7 separate regions of the Homo sapiens genome follow, and regions 1, 3, 4, 5, 6 and 7 are each reported to be linked to region 2. The links are microRNA targets in miRTarBase. Many come from high-throughput screens and were not tested one by one. Region 2 holds a microRNA gene; each other region holds the end of a gene's coding sequence.

Region 1 (3,094 bases), not on the chromosome of region 2:
AATCAATAACACAAAATACAAAAAAAAATTTTTAAGTGATTAATAGGAATTTTTTCCCAATTAGAAAAGTTACAAATTATCCAGCAAAAAACCTTCTATGGGCCGGGAGTGGTGGCTCACGTCTGTAATCCCAGCACTTTGGGAGGCCGAGGCGGGCGGATCACCTGAGGTCAGGAGTTCAAGACCAGCCTGGCCAACATGGCAAAACCCCATCTCTATTAAAAATACAAAAACATTAGCCTGGCGTGTTGGCGGGTGTCTATAATCCCAGCTGCTTGGGAGGCTGAGGCAAAATAATCACCTGAACCCTGGAGTCAGAGGTTGTGGGGAGCCGAGATTGTGCCACTACACTCTAGTTGGGCGACAAGAGTGGGACTCCGTCTCAAAAAAAAAAAAAAAAAAAAAAAAAAACCTTCTATCATATCCTCTTTATTTCTTGCAGCAAAATATACTGTGACCATGTAAGTCGTTAACAAAGATACTATTTTTCTAAATAAATAAAATGGGTATAACTCACCAAAACGTAACAACAAAATAATTCCTAAGAACACTATGAAAAGCAAGATAAATAATTATCTCCTAAACGACAAAACAGGGGAATTGCATTTAGATTATCTAACAGGCTATAACCATTATTGCACAACCAATAAGCACTGAAACACCATATCAAGCTACATAAACTCATATAAAAGAATTAATTCTGATAACATTGCTGAATTCTTTCTGGAAGAATGCACCCACTAAAAATATCAGGTCCAATACGTTAAATATAAATGAGAAACTGGTATTAGATGGGAAATATCCTTTGCCACATCAGAAAACTTCGTCAGTATTTCTCTGGGGTTTGGAGAGAATTGGGAGTGATGTCATGTCATCTTGATCTGGGAAAAAAATGGGTCGGTTTCTTTTCCAATTTTTTAACTAAAACAGGGGATTAAAAAACGTTTAAATTTGAAAATACTTTTCTGTAGCATCTTCTACTTGTCTGTTTCCAAATAAAATGCAAATTTGGAACCCAACGCCAGCAGATAGTTCCTGTGCTCCTGCACAGCAGGCCCAGGAGAGGGGCCTGATCCTAAACAACATCACAGGTAAGACTGAGAAAAACAAAAACAAAAACAAAAAACAACAACAAAAAACAACAACAAAAAACACTGGGTTTTGTCATCAGGGCTTGAATACTGCCCACAGGTTCTCACGAGGACGAGGAAGTGGGAAGAGATATTCTAGGTAATTTTTTTTTATACAATTAACAAACTGTGATCAACCAACTACCTAGGTATTACAATTTTAATAACGTTTTCTCAGTGGTTTAGCTCCTTAGTAAACAGTCTGTACAGTTAATAAACAACTTTTTTTGTTAGAGAAGATCATGAAAATTTTGTCAAAGATTTGACCATACTCCTCTGTATTTTAATACCCTGGTGAACACTTAACATTTTTTTGGTTACATTTCTAATTTGATAGAAAGCATTTGTAGTCAACTGAATTTTAATGTAGCCAAGAGGAGAAAAGGAGTGGTTTCAAATCAAGCGTTGTCCACACTTTTAGAATGGGAAGGCATAGAACATGGTATCTCATGGGAAAGATCATGTTTACAGTAATGCATTCCAGATTAAAAAGTAAAAGGGGCAGAGAGAGTAGAGGCTGTTTCTCAGCATGTGAGGATCTAGTGACTGTCACCACATTATTTGAGAAAACTGCTACCACTACCACAGGCCAGGATCTTTCCATTTTTGTCTCTCACCTTCTCCCAGAACCAGTCATGCTGAATGACCATCACTGATCCTACGGAACTTTGACAAACGATGAAACTAGTGGAGGCTTTCAATGTAGACATCCTCAGCAGAGGAGTGTAGCCCTCGTACTGCTGCTACAAGTCACACGCTGAGTCACATTGCTGTCTGCAGAGTGATGTGAACCTGTGTATACGTGCAGTTTCTTCTTTACCCTTCGTCCCTTCCCCAACATCCTCAGTGAGCAAATCGCATTTCTACCTGGTGAGAACACCCCTGTAAAGAGCCTACTTTGTTGGTCCAACACAGTGTGTCTGCCCAAATGCCCTTTATTAATTAAGTCACCTTTTGGGGAGTAACATAATCAGTGTAAATCAAATGCTGTCCCCATCCCATTCCCCAAGAACCTGCATCTTGAGAATTTTTGGCTGTGTTTTGTAAAAGCTTTTTGCTTTTACGCTAGTGGTGATGTTGGAGGAGAATACAGGATAATGCATCCTCCCTATGTCTAAAAGAATAGCAGGCTCTAAGGCAGACTGTCTTCATTCTGAAGGGCCCAGTAGAGCATTACCACAGCCAAGCTGTTTCCTGAAAGAACAGCAGGTGCCTAGCACTCTTTGCTTCCAAATGCCACTGAAATGAAAGAAGAAAAGAAGAACAGACAATAAAAGGTAATAAAACCCAACCAAATAAATGACGACCACAGGTCAGCGCCCTCTCCTGGGCCTGCCGGGCTTTTCCAGTTTTGCTGTTGGCTTCTGGTCCTCCCAGGCATCGGACCCCTAGAGGGCTCCTCTGGCATCTCCGAAGACCTCTTCCAAAGGCTCTCTGCATCTCTCTCCTCCCCACACCAGTCTCTTCATTTGAGGCGCTGAGTCACGTTGGCCAGGGCAACTGCAAAGGCCTGCACGGCTGAGAACGGATACTGGAAGTCTAGAATGTACGCACTGCCATCAATCCGTCCAAACTGCATCACCTGGAGGAGGGCAGGGGAAGCAAAGACATTAAAGAATAAGGTGAAAAGGCCAGGCGCAGTGGCTCACGCCTGTAGTCCCAGCACTTTGGGAGGCCGAGGTGGGCAGATCACGACGTCAGGAGATAGAGACCACCCTGGCTAACACGGTGAAACCCCGTCTCTATTAAAAATACAAAAAATTAGCCGGGCGTGGTGGCGGGCGCCTGTAGTCCCAGCTACTCGGGAGGCTGAGGCAGGAGAATGGTGTAAACCTGGGAGGTGGAGCTTGCAGTGAGCTGAGATTGGGCCACTGCACTCCAGCCTGGGCGACAGAGGAGACTTCATCTCAAAAAAAAAAAAAAAAAAAAAAAAAAAAGAACAAGGCGAGCAAGGCGACAGCCGG
Region 2 (3,094 bases):
CCGCCCCTTCCCACCTGCTTGTCCCACTCCAGGTGTTTGCTCTGGCCCCACTCCAAACTCCTGGAGTGTGTGTGTTGAGGGCTTCGGTTATATGTGATTGCCCTCATTTGGCCTGGAGGAGGTGACAGTGGACTGGAACAGGGTTGGGGGGTGAGGGGAAGGGACATAGGGCTAGGCTCAACAGGCGTGGCCTCTTATTCCCAGGCAGGATAGGGCTGAACATCTGGCTGAACCAGCTTTGCAGCCTGCCTCCTTCCTCCTACCCTCACTTCCTGCCTGCCCAGCTGTGAATCTGTGTGTTTCTCTCTCCCCATTCCCTATCCCCAGTTCTCACAGCTGGTGAACGGGGATGTGGCTTTGCTGGGCGGGGGCCCCTACATGCTCTGCACTGATGGGCAGCAGCTATTGCGACAGGTCCTGCACCCCGAGGCCTCCAGGAAGGTATGCTCCTGAAGGAAAACCGGGTGGGGTGGGGTGGTCAGTAAGGTTCCCAGAACCCCTCTTGTCCTGAGGGTGGGCAGGGCGCTCATCCTCAATCCTATGTGCCCCCAGAACCTGGTGCTCCCCGACATGTTCTTCTCCTTCTATGACCTCCGAAGAGAATTCCATATGCAGCATCCAAGCACCTGCCCTGCCAGGGACCTCACTGTGGCCACCATGGCACAGGGTATCTGTGACCCAGCAGGGTTAGGGTGGAGAAGCCACTGTGGGTACATGTGTCTGAGTATGTGCATGCTGTGGGTGGGTAATATGGACACATACAAGACTGCGTTATCTGCTAAGTCCCTGAGTGTACTGTGTCTTCGTGTCTGTGCTAGGATGAGTTTGGAATGTGGGTATGTGTCTGTCTATGTCTGGACTGGGAATCTGTATGTGCACACATGAACTGGGCCAAAACAAATGTGTATGCTGGTCTCCAGCATGTGTCTATGGAGGGGAGTTGGGCCCAGGAGTAAACAGGATTAGTGCTTATGCTAAGATGTCTTCACTGTCACTTCTCTGCCCATAGGTTTAGGACTGGAGACAGATGCCACAGAGGATGACTTTGGGGTCTGGGAAGTCAAGACAATGGTAGCTGTTATCCTCCATCTACTCAAAGAGCCCAGCAGTAAGGTTTCCCTCACTGCCTGTCACCTGTTCTCAGGGATGACAAATGCCTATTGCTCCTCCCCACTGTGACCTTCTCTAAGAGACCACGGGGGAATCCTCTTTGTCATTTCTTTTTTTTTTTTTTTTTTGAGACAGTCTCCCTCTGTAGCCTAGGCTAGAGTGCAGTGGCACAATCTCAGCTCACTGCAACCTCCACTTTCCGGGTTCAAGCGATTCTCCTGTCTAAGCCTCCAGAGTAGCTGGGATTATAGGCGCCTGCCACCATGCCCACCTAATTTTTGTATTTTTAGTAGAGATGGGGTTTCACCATGTTGGCCAGGCTGGTCTGGAACTCCTGACCTCAAATGATCCACCCACCTTGGCCTCCCAAAGTGCTGGGATTATAGGCGTGAGCCACTGTGCTCGGCCTGTCATTTCTTCATCTCTCTCAATTGTCCACTTTTTGCAGAACTTGGTGGGGACACCCCTCTCCACCAGACCCTGCTGACCCCCAGGCCATCTTTTCTCAGGTCAATTGTTTTCGAAGCCCGAGGTGATAAAGCAGAAATACGAGACGGGGCCTTGGTGAGTGTGGGAGCAGGGGCTGGGGGTGACAACAGCTGAATAGCTCTGACAGCACTGTGCCCTGCCCCTACAGCAGCAAGGCTGATGTGGTGGACAGTGAGACTGTGGTACGGGCTCGTGGGTTGCCGTGGCAGTCATCAGACCAGGACGTGGCTCGCTTCTTCAAAGGGCTCAACGTGGCCAGGTGGGTGTGGCAGGGTGGGTGGGCCCAATTGGACAGGCCTACCCAGGAGGCACTAACAGCACTGGCTCCACAGGGGTGGTGTAGCACTCTGCCTCAACGCCCAGGGCCGCAGAAATGGCGAGGCCCTCATCCGCTTTGTGGACAGCGAGCAGCGGGACCTAGCGCTGCAGAGACACAAGCACCACATGGGCGTCCGCTATATTGAGGTGGGGCTTTGGGCTGGGAGCGGAGCAGGGCCAATCTGAGTCAGGCCTGAGACCCATGGGCTGCTGCTCTCTGTACCCACAGGTGTATAAAGCGACAGGGGAGGAGTTTGTAAAGATTGCAGGGGGTGAGTATACTGCAAACAGGGCCTGGCTCCCCTGGTTCTTGATCCATTTCACTTCCCCACCACCCCTTGCCTGCCTGCTCCCCTGCATGGGTGAGTGTCTGGAGGAGCATGAGTGAAGTCAGCAGGCGACTCTCATACACAGGCACATCACTAGAGGTGGCTCGTTTCTTGTCACGGGAAGACCAAGTGATCCTGCGGCTGCGGGGACTGCCCTTCTCGGCTGGGCCAACGGACGTGCTTGGCTTCCTGGGGCCAGAGTGCCCAGTGACTGGGGGTACCGAGGGGCTGCTCTTTGTGCGCCATCCTGATGGCCGGCCGACTGGTGATGCCTTCGCCCTCTTTGCTTGTGAGGAGCTGGCACAGGCTGCACTGCGCAGGCACAAGGGCATGCTGGGTAAGCGATACATTGAACTCTTCCGGAGCACTGCAGCCGAAGTGCAGCAGGTGAGCGCCCAGGGCTCCCCACCCCCAGATGTACTGTTACTCCAGGGCGGCCCTCTGTGTCCCTGCCCTACTTGGCATGACCAGCCTGTTGCTGCCTTCCTTACTAGGTCTTGAACCGCTATGCATCCGGCCCACTCCTTCCTACACTGACTGCCCCACTGCTGCCCATCCCCTTCCCACTGGCACCTGGGACTGGGAGGGACTGTGTACGCCTCCGAGGCCTGCCCTACACGGCCACCATTGAAGACATCCTGAGCTTTCTGGGGGAGGCAGCAGCTGACATTCGGCCCCACGGTGTACACATGGTGCTCAACCAGCAGGTGAAGCCACTGCTTGGTAGGGGGAACACATAAATAGGAAGGGGTGTGTGTTAGGGGTAAGGCACTCTTACACATGACAAACTGCTCACAAGATGGTGTGCACAGGGCCGGCCATCGGGCGATGCCTTCATTCAGATGACA
Region 3 (3,086 bases), not on the chromosome of region 2:
AGACAACCTTGGCTTCTTAAGAACACCCTGGAACCACAGGTGGGTGGGCTGTTATCAACACACTGACCAGGGAAGAGGGGTGTGAAAACTCACTTCAAATCCTGCTTCTGCCAAAGGTTAAAGACTAACCTCTTGACTTTGGGCAAATCACTTAACCCACCTAAATCCCATACTCTTCCTCCATAACCCTCCTCTTCCCGAACAACAGAAATCACTAACACCTGAAGAATACTTGCTACATTCTAGCACCCTTGCTGACTTCCCATTCAACATCTCCTTTTTCTTTTTTGAGACGGAGTTTCACTCTTGTAGCCCAGGATGGAGTGCAATGGCACGATCTTGGCTCATCACAACCTCTGCCTCCCAGGTTCAAGCGATTCTCCTGCCTCAGCCCCCCAAAGTGCTGGGATTACAGGCGTGAGCCACTGCACCTGGCCTCAACATCTCCTTTAATCTGCAGAAGTAATCCTGGGGAATAGGTCCTAGTCTTATCCCTATTTTACAGATTTATTATCCATCTGTGAAAATGGGAAAAACAATATTGATTCTGTTATAAGGCTTCTAGAAGACTGAATGGGATCATTTACAAAATGTGTGTGGCACAGATGTTTGTTTCAAAGTTGAAAGCCTGAAGCCTGTGGGCAGACCTAAGGTCAAGCACCAAGCCAGACCAGAACGTACCCCTGGACAATCACAGCAGGAGTCTCTTCCAAGACATAATACTCCACTCCCCAGTACCAGAGCAGTGCTTGGCAGAGGGCATTCCACAGGTTTCTAGGGGAACTTGAGAAGATGGCTTGTGATTTTCTCCCTGAAAAAGTTAGCAGCTCAGAGGGTTTCTTAGAGGATTATTCATCACCCAGTAAGATGTCTACAAACAGAGAAGATTGAAAAATTGTTATTTGGCAAAAAAACTTCTGAATTTAATAAAGAAATGGCAACAACTGGTACGTACAGTAATTCAAAATCTTTTCACTAAGCACCAAATAGGATAGTTCTCAATCTTCTCAAGAACCTCTTTGAAAGAACGCCTAAAACCTAATCAGTTTATTTAGGTTTTTAGTCAAGAAATACAAAGCTGCCAATCAGAGTTTCTAATTACCATGAGTGACCAGGTTAGCAACCTTGAGGTCATACCACATGAGCTTTTAAAAGCTTTGTTTAACCTATACGTTGTAACTGAGGGGATTTGTTGATGTCAGGCTGGTAATCAGAGATCCATGTGCCAGATACCATATACACACACCAAAAAGATACAGATTATATGGTCCTTATATATTTAAGGAGAATAATGTCTAATTCTCATGGGTGTAGAATTAGTGAGGGGCAGAGAGACAGATACAAAGCACTAACCCACCAGGGAGAACCTAGCGAGGGCAACAGAAGAGATCAAAGTCCTGTGCCCTGGGGATGCAACTGAATGGGTGCTGGGAGGCTTCAGGGATCAGGCACATGAGTGGATGTCAGTCCATGTGGGAAGGGGCCTTCAAGGCTGAAGACAACAAAATGAGTCAAGGCACAAAGCCACAGGAGTACTGCCAATCAGAAGACAGTGAAGCATTTGTTCTGGGTAAAGGGATGTGATCTAATAAGATATAAAACTCAGAAAACCTTACCCAATGAGAGCCAGAAATCTCCATTTCTTAACAGCAACTCAACAGGGAATCTGAGGCTGCCCACAAAACTAACGAGAGCAAAATACCCTCCCAAAGGCAGGGCACCACATGCTCTCTGTGGAGGCTCAGTAGCCAATGATCACCCTGCAGCCCCTCCCCACCCCCACCACGACACTCTAGTCCCTTGGAGTCAAATCCACTGGCAACAACCTTCCTTAACGGAAAATGTTTCCCCTCCCAAAATGTAGAACAAAAATGATACACGCAAACAAAACTCAAAACAGAAAGAGACAATCAGAGCAAGATTTAGCCCCTCACAGCTCACCTATGACCCCACTGTCATGCTACTGAAAACAGTGACTGACCCATTAAACAGATTCATTACTGCAGAATGTAATGAATGTTAGCGTATCACTGCTCCCACTATATCCTTCTATGTCAAAAAAAAAAAGTAAACACCACATAAAATATAAACATACCCCAAACAGAAGTCAGCATCAACCTAAGGATCCTACTGTAAGATTACTATACTAACCCAGGACAGTTCCATCGTCTTCTGACCTATTTACAAAAAAATCCTCATTCTGAGAGCTCTGGAAACATTACAAATATTGTATTAGATTCCTCTTCTTGAGGTAGTTCAAAGTCTTAAAACAGAGCAAATTTACATACTTTTCTACACACCACCGCGGGGTAATTATCATAAGGCCTACGACTAAAACTCCCATCTCCTGATTCTCAGGCTACTATACTCTTTTCCTTCGGATCAAACTACAGGAAACACACATAAAAAGATGAAAAGTCATGCAAAAATTTAAAACAAGCAAAGCCACCATAAAAAAGAATCTGTGTCATCATATTCACAGTCTAAACTTTGCTAAAGACAAAAAAAAAATACTTACTTGGTTTATCCAAGCTACAGACATGTTATAAAGTACTCAAGAAATTAACAGCTTATAAAAATAGTGGAAAATTTTTCAATGGGAGCATAAAACTAAAATGAACTCATTATCTGGCAAAGAGTTCTTCCAAAATGTCAAGTCCACAGGAAGGAATGTGTGGCCAACCTCACGCATCAGCCCACTCATAGGCCAACTGCCTCTGCCCTTTGCTCACGTTGGCTTCAGAGGTGCAGGGATGTTGGCAGATGCCTGCTCCAGGTAGGCCAAGGAGCCCTGAGGGATGTCGGCGGGCTTTTTGTGCTGCACGTTGATGTCCTCCAGCACCTGCTGCCAATGCCTCAGCTTTGTCAAGTGCTTCTGGACTAGTGCATCTTTCCGCTGTAATTCATTCCTTAGTTCTGACACATCCTGCAGATGAAAGTCATGGACTAAGTCAGAGCAAATGCAGGAAAAACACATACGGTTCTGGTTAGTTAAGAGGCTAACAATTCAAAACAAAGAGAATCCATTAAACCATATTAAGCCCATTACTCTGCTTGGCTCCACTATTTGATTAACCCAGATGACA
Region 4 (3,094 bases), not on the chromosome of region 2:
CGCTTCCTCTGGGACATCTTTATCCTTTTGTCACAACCATTTTCCTCATTTATGTAAATTGTGCCTTTACTGTTTCTCAGGTTGCCTATCTACTGTATCTCAAACAGCAGTAGTGTCAGCATTCCCAGGCAGGTAGTTCTTCTGTAATTCCATTTATGTTCAATTTGAATTTCACTTCCAGTGTTATTTTTTACTTCTCTGGTACACTTTGATCTTTATTAGCCAACTTCTACTTTTGATTATCCATTTTTGTATAATGTGGATTTACCACTGGGAGACAAGCAATCAACACAACTACATTTTGCCATCTGCAAGTAAAGTGAATAACAGATGTGAAGTAGCCAATCACAGACAGCCTTTGGAAGAAGTGATGTAACTGGTCCTCATCATGATGCATGTATGAATATCCTGTTACTGCTACCAATTCCACAAACTTACTAGCTCAAAACAATTCAAATAATTGTCTTGCAGTTCTAAAGGACAGAGGTCCAAAATGGTCTTAACTGGGCTAGAGTCAAGGTGTTGGCGGGGCTACATCCCTTCAAAAGGTTCTAGGAGAGAATCCATTTCCTTACCTTTTCCAATTTTTTGAGGGTTCCTGCATTCCTTGGCTCATGGCCCCTTCTTCCAACTTTAAAGCCAGCAGTGTAGCATCTTCAAATCTTTCTCTGTTTCTGTTGTCACATCTTCCCTGACTCTGACCATCTGCTTCCCTCTTATAAAGACCCTGGTGATTACAATGGAACCATTCAGATAATCCAGGATAATCCCCCACCTCAAGATCTCTAACTTAATCACATCAACAAGGTCCCTTTTGCCATGTAATATAATAGTTCACAGATTTTAGGAATTAGGATGTGAACTTTGGGGTGGGGGGCATTATTCTGCATAACACAATGTGCATTTCTTATTTACACAGTGGTTGTGGTTTGAAGAACTATCAGTGAAGTTTGAATTTCATGCAGTTACTCACAGTTAATATCCACTGGTAACTGAAATTTGAATTGTGTTGCAGGGGAGACTCATGTTATTAAGTAAACCATAGTAACTGGGATTTGTGCACATCTGAATCATGCAAAATGGGGATGGCCTGTTTCAGGTCCAGCTGACAGGTCAAACAGAATGAGAAAATGCATGTGACTACACATGCTGGGCCATGGCTGCAGAGAATGAGGCAGAAGGGACTTTTGCTTGCCCTCATGTTTGAAGAACACTCACAGGTAAACAGATTGAGCTTTCTCTTGTGCCAGATCTTTCAAGCCTACCAGAATACTGACAGCACTTCAGCTTCTGAGAAACATAGTACAGGTAAATATGGAAAAAGAAATAATGATATTCTTCCCTCTTACTGCTGCCATCTCTGCCTTTCTCACCCTGCCACCCCAAAAAAACTATGTCTAAGTCTCTTATGCATTAATACCCAACTACTGATAATGCATTACATTTTATAAAGCAACTATCTTTTTTCATTATTCTGATTAATAAACATAAAAGAGCTCTTCTGGTAACTGATTAAGAATATAATCAGTGTTTCCTATGAACAAGCTATGGAGTAACTAAATAAGGGACACTCTTAGACCAACTATAATTTTTAACAAAACAATTGTTGATATAAAGTTTCTCATAAATTCATTTTATTTCAACAGCAAAAAGATTAGCTCCATCCCTCTGATTGGGATCACAAAGTACAATCTTTTCAGCATGGGTTTTCTCACCATGCCACAAACAGAAAGAGGCACTAAGGGACTGATAAGGGGGTATTTTCTGTCTCTGGCAGTATTATATTGACCTGCAATAAAAACATCTGATCTTACAGAACAGGATACCTCTTGAAGAGGTATAGTTTATTTTATAATATGTAAGTATTCCAAATACATTCATTGTATGAATTAGGGAAGGAAAAGCAATAAGAAACATTTCATGAATATTCATTCCTACACTCCAACCATACCAAGTCTTACTACTTTATAGAATTCATAATTTATTAGCCAATACTATTTTAAAATACTATTTCCGTACTGTAAAATTGATATTAGAGGAAAAAAAGTCACACACGATGCCTACCACCACCAGGGTGAAACCAAATCTTTATCTGCCTATGGCTGCTGTCTGGGTCGATTGAGGCAGCAGCTTCATTTTCTTCATGGTTTACCCAGACAGATGTGGAACCAAAGTGCTAAGTGCATATTTCAAGCATCTGTTCTGAATATGTTTAAAGCCACAGTAAGTTACAAAAGGCAAATTCATAGATGCTCTTTGAAAGTGAATGTAACTATTATACTTGGTATTCTACTTCCCCCACGCCCCCAGAAGTTTTTGATGCTATAGACACTGATATATAGTTTGAAACTCTCACTATAAAATTACTAGGCTAAGTCTATCAAGACTTGAAAGTTTGTTTTGCTGAGGTAGGTGAAAGGGTAATCTCTGTTCTTTCCAGGTGACTGCATCTGCACAGGCTTCCCTGGGAGGACTTCATCAACAGCACAGTTACACATCAAAGTCCTTTAGCTCTCCCCAGCTGGCGCCTATTTTCACTTTCACTTTCAATTTCACAGACAGTTTTACAGCACTTTCCATTTCATTCTTGACAATCTGAGCTACCTAAGGAAAAAAAAAATGTAGTTAACAAACTGCCCAGTCAAAGAATGTTTCCCAAACCATCCCCTGAGAAAGTTATAAACCAGACTGGAGCTCTTCACCCAATGGTGCTTAAAATGCTAAATCAGAAAAAATAAAAAATAAAATAAATAAATGAATAAATAAAAAGACATCTCATACTCTTCTTCACTGATGAGCAGGAATTTCTGAAAGTTTTTGCTAGAATGCTTGGAGCTTAGAAACCCTAAGGGAAAGACTCCAAATTTTTGTTTAATTCCTCCAAGACAAAAACATCTTGCATTGGCAATTCTTCACTTATTAAGAACTAGTACAAAACGGAACACTCTTAGCTCCTTTTCTACCTGTAAGGACTCAATATTTATACAGCCATCCCAGGGCTAGGGTAGAGTTCCAAAATCCTCATGCACAGGAAACAAAGCTGTCGGCCTGACAATACAGTGTCTTGTCTTCCTATGGAATGGACACAAGCATT
Region 5 (3,094 bases), not on the chromosome of region 2:
AAGGGGAGCTGGCGCCGAGGCCCTCGCCGACCCGCTGCCCTGTCCCCCAGGTGTGCGAGCCGCCGGAACGCAGGCGCCCGGGCCGCCGCTGGAGCGTCAGCATCGACGAGCGCCGGCGGCTGGCCACGCTGGGCGGCCGGGAGAGGCCGGGCGCCGCCGGGACCCAGCTGCACTGCAGGGTGCGCGGGGGGCGGGTCCTCCCCGCCCCGTCCCCGCCCCGCCCCGCCCCTCCGCCTCGCCTCCCTCGACTCAGTCCCACTGGGCCCTTTACCCCGGCGCTCCCGGGCCCCGCCGTTGTCCCCTTCCCGCCCCTCGAGGCTCCCTGACCACCCTCGCCCGCAGGACGTCGTGCAGATGGTAGCCCAGCTGGTGTCGGAGGACGTGGACAAGGACGTGCTCCTTCCCCACCCGCTGAGGTCCACCGAGTCCACCAACGCCTTCCAGGCCTTCCTGGCGCGCAGTGCGCCTTTCTGGCATAATGCGACTTTCGAGGCCTCGAGGTCACCCCCTTCCTAAGAGCCCCATTCAGCCCATTGTCTGTCTTCCAGTGCCTTTCCTTGGGGGCCCACGGTGGGGGCAGCCTCTGCGCCTTCTTTGTGCCCCACCAGGGGGTCACCACCCACCCATGTTAGGAAAACAGGCCAGGCAGGACCTGGCTCCGGACAGCCTGCAGCTGCTGAGGCCTTGGAGACCGGGCTAGGGGCTATGGGAGGCCATCTAGGGGAGGGGAACACTGCCCCGGGTCAGTCTGAGAGGGCCCTGGCAAGGCCTGGGTAGCAGGAGCTTGCCCTCGGGGCCGCTGGGAGGAGGCCTGGGGTACCTGGGCCTGCCTGAGGTGCACTGGTGTCCTGGGAAGCCCCAGTGGCAGGCGCTGCCTGGAGACTCAGCTCCTTGGCTGGCCTGGTCTGGGGAACTGGGTATCTGCCTGCACCAGGCTGTGAGATGGGCCAGGCAGAGTTCTCCAGGGGGCGGGGTCTCACATTGGGTCCTGCCTCTGAAGACCCAGAAGGGCACACGGGACCCCAGGGGTGCTGTGGTGGGGAGCAGCAAGCCCAGGGACCCAATGCAGTGCCCAGCACAGAGGGAGGCTGTCTGGAGGCAGAGATGCCTCCTGGCCTCTGGACAGCGATGCTGGTGGTGGACGAGGGCCAAGAGGGTATCCTGCGCAGGGGGTCTGAGCAACTGTGAGGAGCTGGCTGCCGCAGGGGCCTGTGGGACATGGTCCACTGGGTGACTGCCTCGTTTCCAGGCTGCAGGGCCCTCGGAAGGGTGCTGAGCCGGGGTAACGTGTCCCAGCTGCATTTTGGGGACACTAAGTTGCAGGGGGACTGGATTGGGAGGCGGGGCAGGAGAGCTGTGAGCATGGGTTCCCAGCCCGGGGTGGGTGGGGGTGGGGAAAGGGCCCTGAACTCTGTGACTGACTGTTAGGGGCCTGACTGGGCTTCTGTGGAGGTGGCTAGGTGGAGGAGGCTTTGGGGCAAGCGGAGGTGATCACTCCTGGGCTCCAGGTGAGGGCAGGAGCTGGACCTGTGCGGTGGCCTGGACCACCAGATACACTACATGCTGGCTGTGCTGCCCACCTGGCCTGTAACCCTCCCCTTCCCGCTGCTGAGAAGCCACCTGACTGCACTGCCAGCCACCTGCTGCCCTGACACAGGATCCCTGGCCCGAGTTGAATCCTCTGCACCTGCCTGTCTCCCCTTCTTACTGTAAGACTCAGTGAAGTTCCCTCCTCCTTCAGGAAGCCTTCCAAGATTACACAGCCAGGTGCTCCCCTTCTCTCCCAAGTCCTCTGAATGTCATTTGGTGCACCCTAGGGATCCTCTGCATTTCTCAGGAGCCCTAGGGTAGGTGGATGGAGGGCAGATCCTCCAGGGGCTAGGGCAGGTGTCCTTAAGGGTGTGGGGAGTTTTGGGCAGGGCACTGTCCTTAAGGGTGTGGGGAGTTTTGGGTCATGACCCACCCCCTCTGAGGCCCCTGATGATGATGTGGGGAATGGGATCCTATGGGCCCAGCTGCATGCCAGGCAGGCATCCCCAGGTGTAAACAGGGCAGAGCGGAGCTGACAGGTAAGCAGTTGCCATGGGGGTGATGAGCTGGGCAGTCCTCTGTTGCTGAGTGGCTTTAAAGAACCACTCGTTGTTCTGTGACTTGGGGGTTGGCTGGGCTCATCCTGCCAGCTCTCCTGCTCTCGTTTGAGTGTCTCCTGAGGCTGCAGTCAGAGCGTGGTGGTCCAGGATGCTGGTGATGCTGGGATGGTTGCCCTCTCTGCTCCATGAGGTCTCCCTACAGAGCACCTCCCCCATGGTGGCAGCAGAGACAAAACCCTGGCCTCCTTCAGGCTGAGGCCCAGAGCCAGTCTCCTGGTGGGTAAGGTGGCCACAGGGCCAGCTGGCAGCAGGGTATTGGCACTGAGAGGCACAGGCCTCTCCAACAGAGGTGGTGCCGGGACAGGGGCAGTGCCTGGAGACCGCTTAGGTTGTCACAACTGGGATTTGTGTACTAGTTTTCTGTAGCTGCCATAAAAATTGCCACAAATTCAGTAGGTTTGGTTTCTTTTTCTTTTTTCTTTTTTTGGTGGTTGGGGCGGAGCGGGGGGCAGGCTTGCTATGTTGCCCAGGCTGGTCTTGAACTATTGGACTCAAGTGATCCCCCGACTTTGGCCTCCTGGGTAGCTGGGACTGCAGGTGCATCCCACCACACCCGGCCTTTATTTTTTTTTTTGTAAGTTTTTATAGAGAAACAGTCTTGGTATGTTGCTCAGGCTGGTCTTGAACTCCTTGACCCAAGCAATCCTCTTGCCTCGGCCTCCTGAGTAGCTGGGGTTACATGAGTGTTCCACTGGTGCCTGGCTTTGAGTGTTTTAAAACAACACAAATGTATTAGCTAAGTTTTGTAGAAGTTCAAAATGGGTATCTTTGGGCTCAGAATGAGGGGTTGGCAGAGTTCTGTTCCTTCTGGAGGTGCCAGGGGAGACCCTGTTTCCCTTTTTCTAGCCTCAAGAAGCCACCTGCATTCCTTGGCTGGTAGTTGTGGCCTCCTTCGGAGCGGCCGAGCCCCTCTCTGCCCTGCCCTTCTCTGCCCACCTCTCCAT
Region 6 (3,094 bases), not on the chromosome of region 2:
TACATGTTTAGTTCTGTTTTTATTCTGTGCCATGCGTAATATCATTTTCCATTTTCACCCATGTAAGATTTTAGCTTTTTATCCATGAAAATATTTTTGTGATTGGATCTCATAGTTTAGTTAAATATTAAGGTATTTTCGATGATGAAGTGTTTTGATAAAATTTGTACTTTTCATTTATAATAGGCCCAAAAGAAATCCTTTTTTTTTTTTTTTTTTTTTTGAGACAGAGTCCCACTCTGTCACCTAGGCTGGAGTGCAATGGCATGATCTCGGCGGAGGCTGCAACCTCCGCCTTCCAGACTCAAGCAGTTCTCCTGCCTCAGCCTTCCAAGTAACTGGGGACTACAGGCACGTGCCACCATGCCCAGCCAATTTTTGTAATTTTTGGTGGAGACGGGGTTTCACCATGTTGGCCAGGCTGGTCTCCTGACCTCAGGTGATCCGCCTACCGCAGCCTCCCAGAGTGCTAGGATTACAGACGTGAGCCACCTCACCCAGCCAGAAATCCTAGTAAGTCTTGAGGTATATAGTTCTACAGCAAAGCCGGTAATTGTGATTTTTGGGGTTTTTTGTTGTTGATGTTGTTTTTAAATCATAGACAGATGGGGGTCTCACTGTTGCTCAGGCTGATCTCGAACTCCTGGGCTCAAGGATCCTTCCGCCTTGACCTCTCAAAATGCTGGGATTATAACCACCAGGCCAGCCCAGTACTTACGTTTTTTACTAGGTCATTGATATTCCAGAAAGCTAAGTATTTTTAGTAATTTTAAAATGTCCTATCTTTATTTCTGAGCATTTGTTTAAAAATGCTAAGTCTGATGCCACATTGCTGTCTCCCATGGGTCCTTTGGTTCCAGGAAGGTAATACAATTTCATAAATTTATTTTTGAAGATTTCCTCACGGTAGCTTCTACGTTGCTAAACTTGCCATTACAGTCAACTTCCCTAGCACAGAGGAAAAATAGCAGTAGAATATAAGAGATTGAGTGCTCTTAGCAAATCTTTTATTACCCCAGCATAGTCTCTAGTGGTGTAATTCTCTATTGATGTGAACATTTCTATTACTTATGATAGAGAATCAGTACAAAAGTTTATAAAGCAAAGCTGAAGTTTGTCACTTGTAAATGGTATAAAGGACAAATTAGAAACAGATTTTGATTTCCTAAACCATGTATTTCTCAAGCTGCTTTCTTGTGACCATTTTATACTACTTCAGGCTCCTGATTTCAAATACATTTTTAAAGCACCTAAATAGGCCAGGCATAGTGGCTCACACCTGTAATCCCAGCACTTTGGGAGACTGAGGCGGGCGGATCACCTGAGGTCAGGAGTTCGAGGCCAGCCTAGGCAACATGGTGAAACACCATCTCTACCAAAAATACAAAAAATTAGGTGGGCGTGATGGCACATGCCTGTAGTCCCAGCTACTCAGGAGGCTGAGATGGGAGGATCGCTTGAGCCTGGGAGATGGAGGTTGCAGTGAGCTGAAATCGCACCACTGCACTCCAACCTGGGTAACAGAGTGAGACCCTGTCTCAAAAAAAAAAAAAAGCAGCCTAAATTAATCTTGACTTTACCATACCCTAAGAACTCTTTGTAATTACAACTTGTATATTAAATCCAAGAGTAAAATTAAGCATTAGAGCTGTTTTTCAGAAAAGATTTGTAGGGAGAACTTCTAATCACTTATAAGGTAAATTATTGAGGTTCAAGAATCATAAGCTAAAATCTTGGTGCCTTGGCTAGGCATGGTGGCTCACACTTGTAATCCCAGTGCTCTGGGAGGCCAAAGTGGGAGAATCACTTAAGGCCAGGAGTTCGAGACCAGCCTGGACAACATGTGAGACCTCGTCTCTACAAAAAATAAAAAACAATTACCCTGGCATGGTGGTATGCGCCTGTAGTCCCAGCTACTTGGGAGACTGAGGTGGGAGGATCACTTGAGCCCAAGAGTTTGAGGCTGCATGAGTTATGATTACACCAGAATTCACTACAGCTTCCAACTCCTGCACTCCAGCCTGGTGACAGAGTATTATATAAAGAGTATTAAATAAATAAATAAAATATTTGGTGCCTTGTCAGAAATGAAACTGTGATTGATAAAAACATGCTGGGGCCAGGCACGGTGGCTCACGCCTGTAATCTCAGCACTTTGGGAGGCCGAGGCGGGCTGATCACGAGGTCAAGAGATTGAGACCATCCTGGCCAACATGATGAAACCCCATCTCTACTAAAAATACAAAAATTAGCTGGGCGCGGTTTCGCCTGCCTGTAATCCCAGCTACTCGGGAGGCTGAGGTAGGAGAATCACTTGTACCCAGGAGGTGGGGGTTGCAGTGAGCCGAGATCGCACCTTTGCACTCCAGCTTGGGCAACAAGAGCGAAACTCCGTCTAAAAAAATAAATAAATAAATAAATGCTGAAACAAACATAAGTGGGAAAATACGGAAGGCCCAACTATTTATTTACATATAATATTTCTACATATTTATGGGGTACACGTGGCATTTTGTTGCATGCATAGAAGGTGTAATGATCAAGTCAGGGTACTTAGGGTATCCATCAGTTTGATCAATTTTTTTTTTTTTGAGACAGTCTTCCTCTGTCACCCAAGCTAGTGTGCAGTGGCGCAATCTCGGCTCATAAGCATTCATGAAGAAGAGAAAGGGAAAGATGTATTGAAGGTAGAACATATACCAAAGCACCAAGTACATGGAGTTGTCTAGAGAGCAGCAGGCATTATGGCTTAAGCACAGTTGGGGCCTGGTTGCCCAGAGACGGCATGGCAGCAGATGAAGCCAAGAGTTAGGCTGAGTGTAGATTTGGCTAACATGTATGCCCTAAATACGTAATGAAACAAGAAAAATGGCAATTTCTCTTTAAAAGAGGATAGACAACTTCATTTCTTTATCTGAGATTGCTCTGGTATGATGATAGTCTCTGGTTTTGGTGTTTCATTCGTGATGAGCACTTCAGGGCTTTTTATCCTTTCAAAGCTATAGCATTCAGTTTTGTCTTCAGAAGATACTGTTCTAGTGCTGACCAAATGAAAGCCTTCCTTTAATAAAGTGTCAATCAGTAAGCCGAGGAC
Region 7 (3,000 bases), not on the chromosome of region 2:
ATAGATATCATTTTCTTTGAGAGAGCCTCTCTGTTATTTAGGCTGACAAAGGCAAGGACCATTATCTTAAGCCCTGGGCCCGGATGAAGGCAGAGTGGCCGTCACACTCCAGCCAGCTGCAGCCCCATTGGAAGCAGGCCTCACCTCTGAGGTTTCAGGTCCTTGTGGTCAGCCCCTGCCCTATGTACACCCTCTGAGGCAGGAGTTTCTAACTTAGTCTGGGTACCTAGGCCCCAGGACCCTCACCAAAGCCCTTTGGCTTCTCTTGGGAGCCTCTGCAGCCTGGGAAGTGCATCTTACCCCTAGGTGCCCAAGGGGTTTCTCTGCCTCTTGCTGGACAGAGCAGCAAATAGGAGCCCAGAAACAGGGAGGATGGAAGTAAGCTCCATCCCTCCCTGCCCAGGAACTGCCCCAGACCTTCTCTAGAGGTTCGCAGGCAATCAGCTAGATGGGGATTGCTGAATCAGATGGGCCACCCCATCTTCCCTCATTGGTCTTCTCCCTTTTTTTCTTTTTGAGATGGAGTCTCGCTCTGTCGCCAGGCTGGAGTACAGTGGTGCGATCTCGGCTCACTACAACCTCCGCCTCAGATTCAAGTGATTCTCCTGCCTCAGCCTCCCGAGTAGCTGGGATTACAGGCACGCACCACTGCACCCAGCTAATTTTTGTATTTTTTTTCTGAGACAGTGTCTCGCTCTGTCACCCGGGTTGGAGTGCAGTGGTGCGATCTCAGCTCACTGGAAGCTCCGCCTCCCAGGTTCACGCCATTCTCCTGCCTCAGCCTCCTGAATAGCTGGGACTACAGGCACCCGCCACGACGCCCGGCTAATGTTTGTATTTTTAATAGAGACGAGGTTTCACCGTGTTAGCCAGGATGGTCTCGATCTCCTGACCTCGTGATCCACCCGCCTTGGCCTCCCAAAGTGCTGGGATTACAGGCGTGAGCCACTGCGCCCGGCCTAATTTTTGTATTTTTAGCAGAGATGGGGTTTCACCTTGTTGGCCAGGATGGTCTCGATATCTTGACCTCGTGATCCACCTGTCTCAGCCTCCCAAAGTGCTGGGATTACAGGCATGAGCCACCGCACCCAGCCAGTCTTCTCCCTTCTTAAGGCCTCAGGGAGGGGCCCTCCTTGGGGTGGAATTCTCAGCCCTTGGTAGGTCTTACCTCTGCCCAGTCTCTGGCACACAGTAGATACTCAGTAAATATTTATTGAAGGAATTCTGCCCAGAGATGATTGCTATTCTTGCCTAGGAGCAGGTGAGATGAAAGTTTCCTATGCAGAACATTCATTGATACCTTTTTTTTTTTTGGGAAGGGGGGACAAGGTCTCTGTCACCCAGGCTGGAGTGCAGTGGTGTGATCACAGCTTACTGCAACCTTGAGCTTCTTGGCTCAAGGGATCCTCCCACCTCTGCCTCCTGAGTGGCTTGGACTACAGGCCTGTGCCACCATGTCCAGCTAAGTTTTAAATTTTTTGTAGAGATGGAGGTCTCCTTATGTGGCCCAGGGTGGCCTCTCAAGTGATTCTCCCATCTTGGCCTTCCAAAGTGTTGGGATTACAGGCATGATCCACCACACTTGGCTTTTTTTTTTTCCCTTTCCTTAATTTTTCTGTAGAGACAGGGTCTCTATGTTGCCCAGGCTGGTCTTGAAGTCCTGGTCTCAAGCGATCCTCCTGCTCTGACCTCCCAAAGTGTTTTTTTTGTTTGTTTGTTTTTTGAGACGAGTCTCATTCCATCACCCAGGCTGTAGTGCAGTGGCGTGATCCCAGCTCACCACAACCTCTTCCTCTCCAGTTCAAGCAAATTTCCTGCCTCAGCCTCCCAAGTAGCTGGGATTACAGGCGACTGCTACCACGCCTGGCTAATTTTTGTATTTTTAGTAGAGCTGGGGTTTTGCCATGTTGGCCAGGCTGGTCTTGAACTCCTGACCTCTAGTGACCCACCCATCTTGGCCTCTCAAAGTGCTGGGATTACAGGCGTGAGCCACCACACCCAGCCTTTTTTTTTTTTTTTTTTTTAAAAAAAAGACAGGGTCTTGCTGTGTTGCCCAGGCTGGCCTCAAACTCCCAGGTTTGAGTGATCCTCCCACCTCAACCTCCCGAGTAGCTGGGATTACATGTGCGCACTGCCATCTCCAGCTGATATCTTTTTTCTTTAAATGTTTTCAGGAAGTGGGCTCATTACGGGATGCACACAAAACCTGGTGGATACTAGCACCAAAAGCACCTATCTACCAGCCCCACCTCCCTCCTTTTCCATTCAACTGAGATGGAGCAGACAGGATTTGGCAAAGTCCATGCAAGCACTCTCCCTTCAGAGCATGTGGTATTGATGGCAGCCAAGTGTAAGACTGGGTGGGGAGCCAGAAGGAAATGGAGTCGTCAGGATGCTCACCGAGTCAGACTTTTCAACCGGAAGAGACTAGCTCATCCAAACCAACCTCCTACGTTTTCTTTTTTAAAATTAAATTTTATTATTTTGCTCTAACAAAGTAACCTCCTACTTTTTCAAGGCTCAGAGGTGGTCAACAATTTGCCCAACTCACATGGCAGATAGTGGCGGAGTCAAACAGGGCACTCAGGTAGGGCTATTCCAGCCCAGAGCCGTTTGCTTGGCCTGCAGTACCGCCTTTGGCCATAAGAGCCACTCATGGCTGGTCCTGGAGGAGGCAGGACATCCCCAAAGATGCTTATTGACGCCAGCTGGACGTGGCTGGCGGGAAGACTGGCACCTGTTCATGAAAATAAAATCTCCTGATAAGGTTTTCTTGCGGAGCCTGGTTGAGCCTGAATCAACAAACAACATCCTGAACCTGAGCACCCCTTGCTGAGCTAGGAGGAAAGGAAGGGTGAGGGGAAACGTACTCCAGCTCTGTTTGTCAGCTTCATTAGTTCACAGAGTTTATGACCTGCTGCAGGGAACATTTTTGTGTGTAATTCAAACACATTCTGTTTTATCATTCCCTCGGTACCCTGCTGGGACAAGAATGGGCTG

What was found. Region 2 holds the annotated microRNA hsa-miR-6773-3p (ACUGUCACUUCUCUGCCCAUAG, at 988-1,009, shown strand). A microRNA usually pairs through its seed, bases 2 to 8, with sites in the 3' UTR of a target mRNA and lowers its output. Matches are read on the target gene's strand: a 7mer-m8 pairs with bases 2 to 8, a 7mer-A1 pairs with bases 2 to 7 and ends in A, and an 8mer does both.
Region 1: miRTarBase lists TULP4 as a target of hsa-miR-6773-3p. Seed matches in the 3' UTR shown: 7mer-m8 at 1,677-1,683.
Region 3: miRTarBase lists MED28 as a target of hsa-miR-6773-3p. The part of its 3' UTR that is shown has no 7-base or 8-base seed match.
Region 4: miRTarBase lists POLQ as a target of hsa-miR-6773-3p. The part of its 3' UTR that is shown has no 7-base or 8-base seed match.
Region 5: the mRNA of TEX22 is a reported target of hsa-miR-6773-3p. The part of its 3' UTR that is shown has no 7-base or 8-base seed match.
Region 6: miRTarBase lists KCNRG as a target of hsa-miR-6773-3p. Seed matches in the 3' UTR shown: 8mer at 2,605-2,612.
Region 7: the mRNA of SLC16A5 is a reported target of hsa-miR-6773-3p. The part of its 3' UTR that is shown has no 7-base or 8-base seed match.

What each region holds. Positions count from the first base shown.
Region 1 is chr6:158,506,196-158,509,289 of GRCh38, reverse strand. It overlaps TULP4 (TUB like protein 4), which reads right to left. Exons shown (of 14, transcript NM_020245.5): 14 at 1-2,712. The coding sequence ends at 2,596. Among named protein-coding and RNA genes, the nearest start is that of TMEM181, 52 kb to the left of the region's middle. RefSeq lists an enhancer at 2,305-2,805.
Region 2 is chr16:68,231,341-68,234,434 of GRCh38, reverse strand. It overlaps MIR6773 (microRNA 6773), which reads left to right and starts at 936; the gene lies at 936-1,009. ESRP2 (epithelial splicing regulatory protein 2) reads left to right here. Exons shown (of 15, transcript NM_024939.3): 3 at 328-441; 4 at 553-667; 5 at 1,010-1,108; 6 at 1,620-1,674; 7 at 1,748-1,858; 8 at 1,932-2,064; 9 at 2,147-2,189; 10 at 2,332-2,633; 11 at 2,741-2,953; 12 at 3,059-3,094.
Region 3 is chr4:17,623,441-17,626,526 of GRCh38, reverse strand. MED28 (mediator complex subunit 28) reads right to left here. Exons shown (of 4, transcript NM_025205.5): 4 at 1-2,926. The coding sequence ends at 2,729. Among named protein-coding and RNA genes, the nearest start is that of MED28, 10 kb to the right of the region's middle.
Region 4 is chr3:121,429,814-121,432,907 of GRCh38, forward strand. POLQ (DNA polymerase theta) reads right to left here. Exons shown (of 30, transcript NM_199420.4): 30 at 1,618-2,604. The coding sequence ends at 2,491. Among named protein-coding and RNA genes, the nearest start is that of POLQ, 110 kb to the right of the region's middle. RefSeq lists an enhancer at 2,446-2,495.
Region 5 is chr14:105,411,318-105,414,411 of GRCh38, forward strand. TEX22 (testis expressed 22) reads left to right here. Exons shown (of 4, transcript NM_001195082.2): 3 at 51-179; 4 at 343-2,542. The coding sequence ends at 516. Among named protein-coding and RNA genes, the nearest start is that of MTA1-DT, 6.9 kb to the right of the region's middle. RefSeq lists a silencer at 84-213 and enhancers at 285-788, 789-1,291.
Region 6 is chr13:50,020,263-50,023,356 of GRCh38, reverse strand. KCNRG (potassium channel regulator) reads right to left here. Exons shown (of 2, transcript NM_173605.2): 2 at 2,435-3,094. The coding sequence ends at 2,903. All of the region lies in intron 10 of DLEU2 (deleted in lymphocytic leukemia 2), which reads left to right. Among named protein-coding and RNA genes, the nearest start is that of KCNRG, 6.4 kb to the right of the region's middle.
Region 7 is chr17:75,105,617-75,108,616 of GRCh38, reverse strand. It overlaps SLC16A5 (solute carrier family 16 member 5), which reads right to left. Exons shown (of 7, transcript NM_004695.4): 7 at 2,455-2,737. The coding sequence ends at 2,584. Among named protein-coding and RNA genes, the nearest start is that of ARMC7, 2.9 kb to the left of the region's middle. RefSeq lists an enhancer at 2,927-3,000.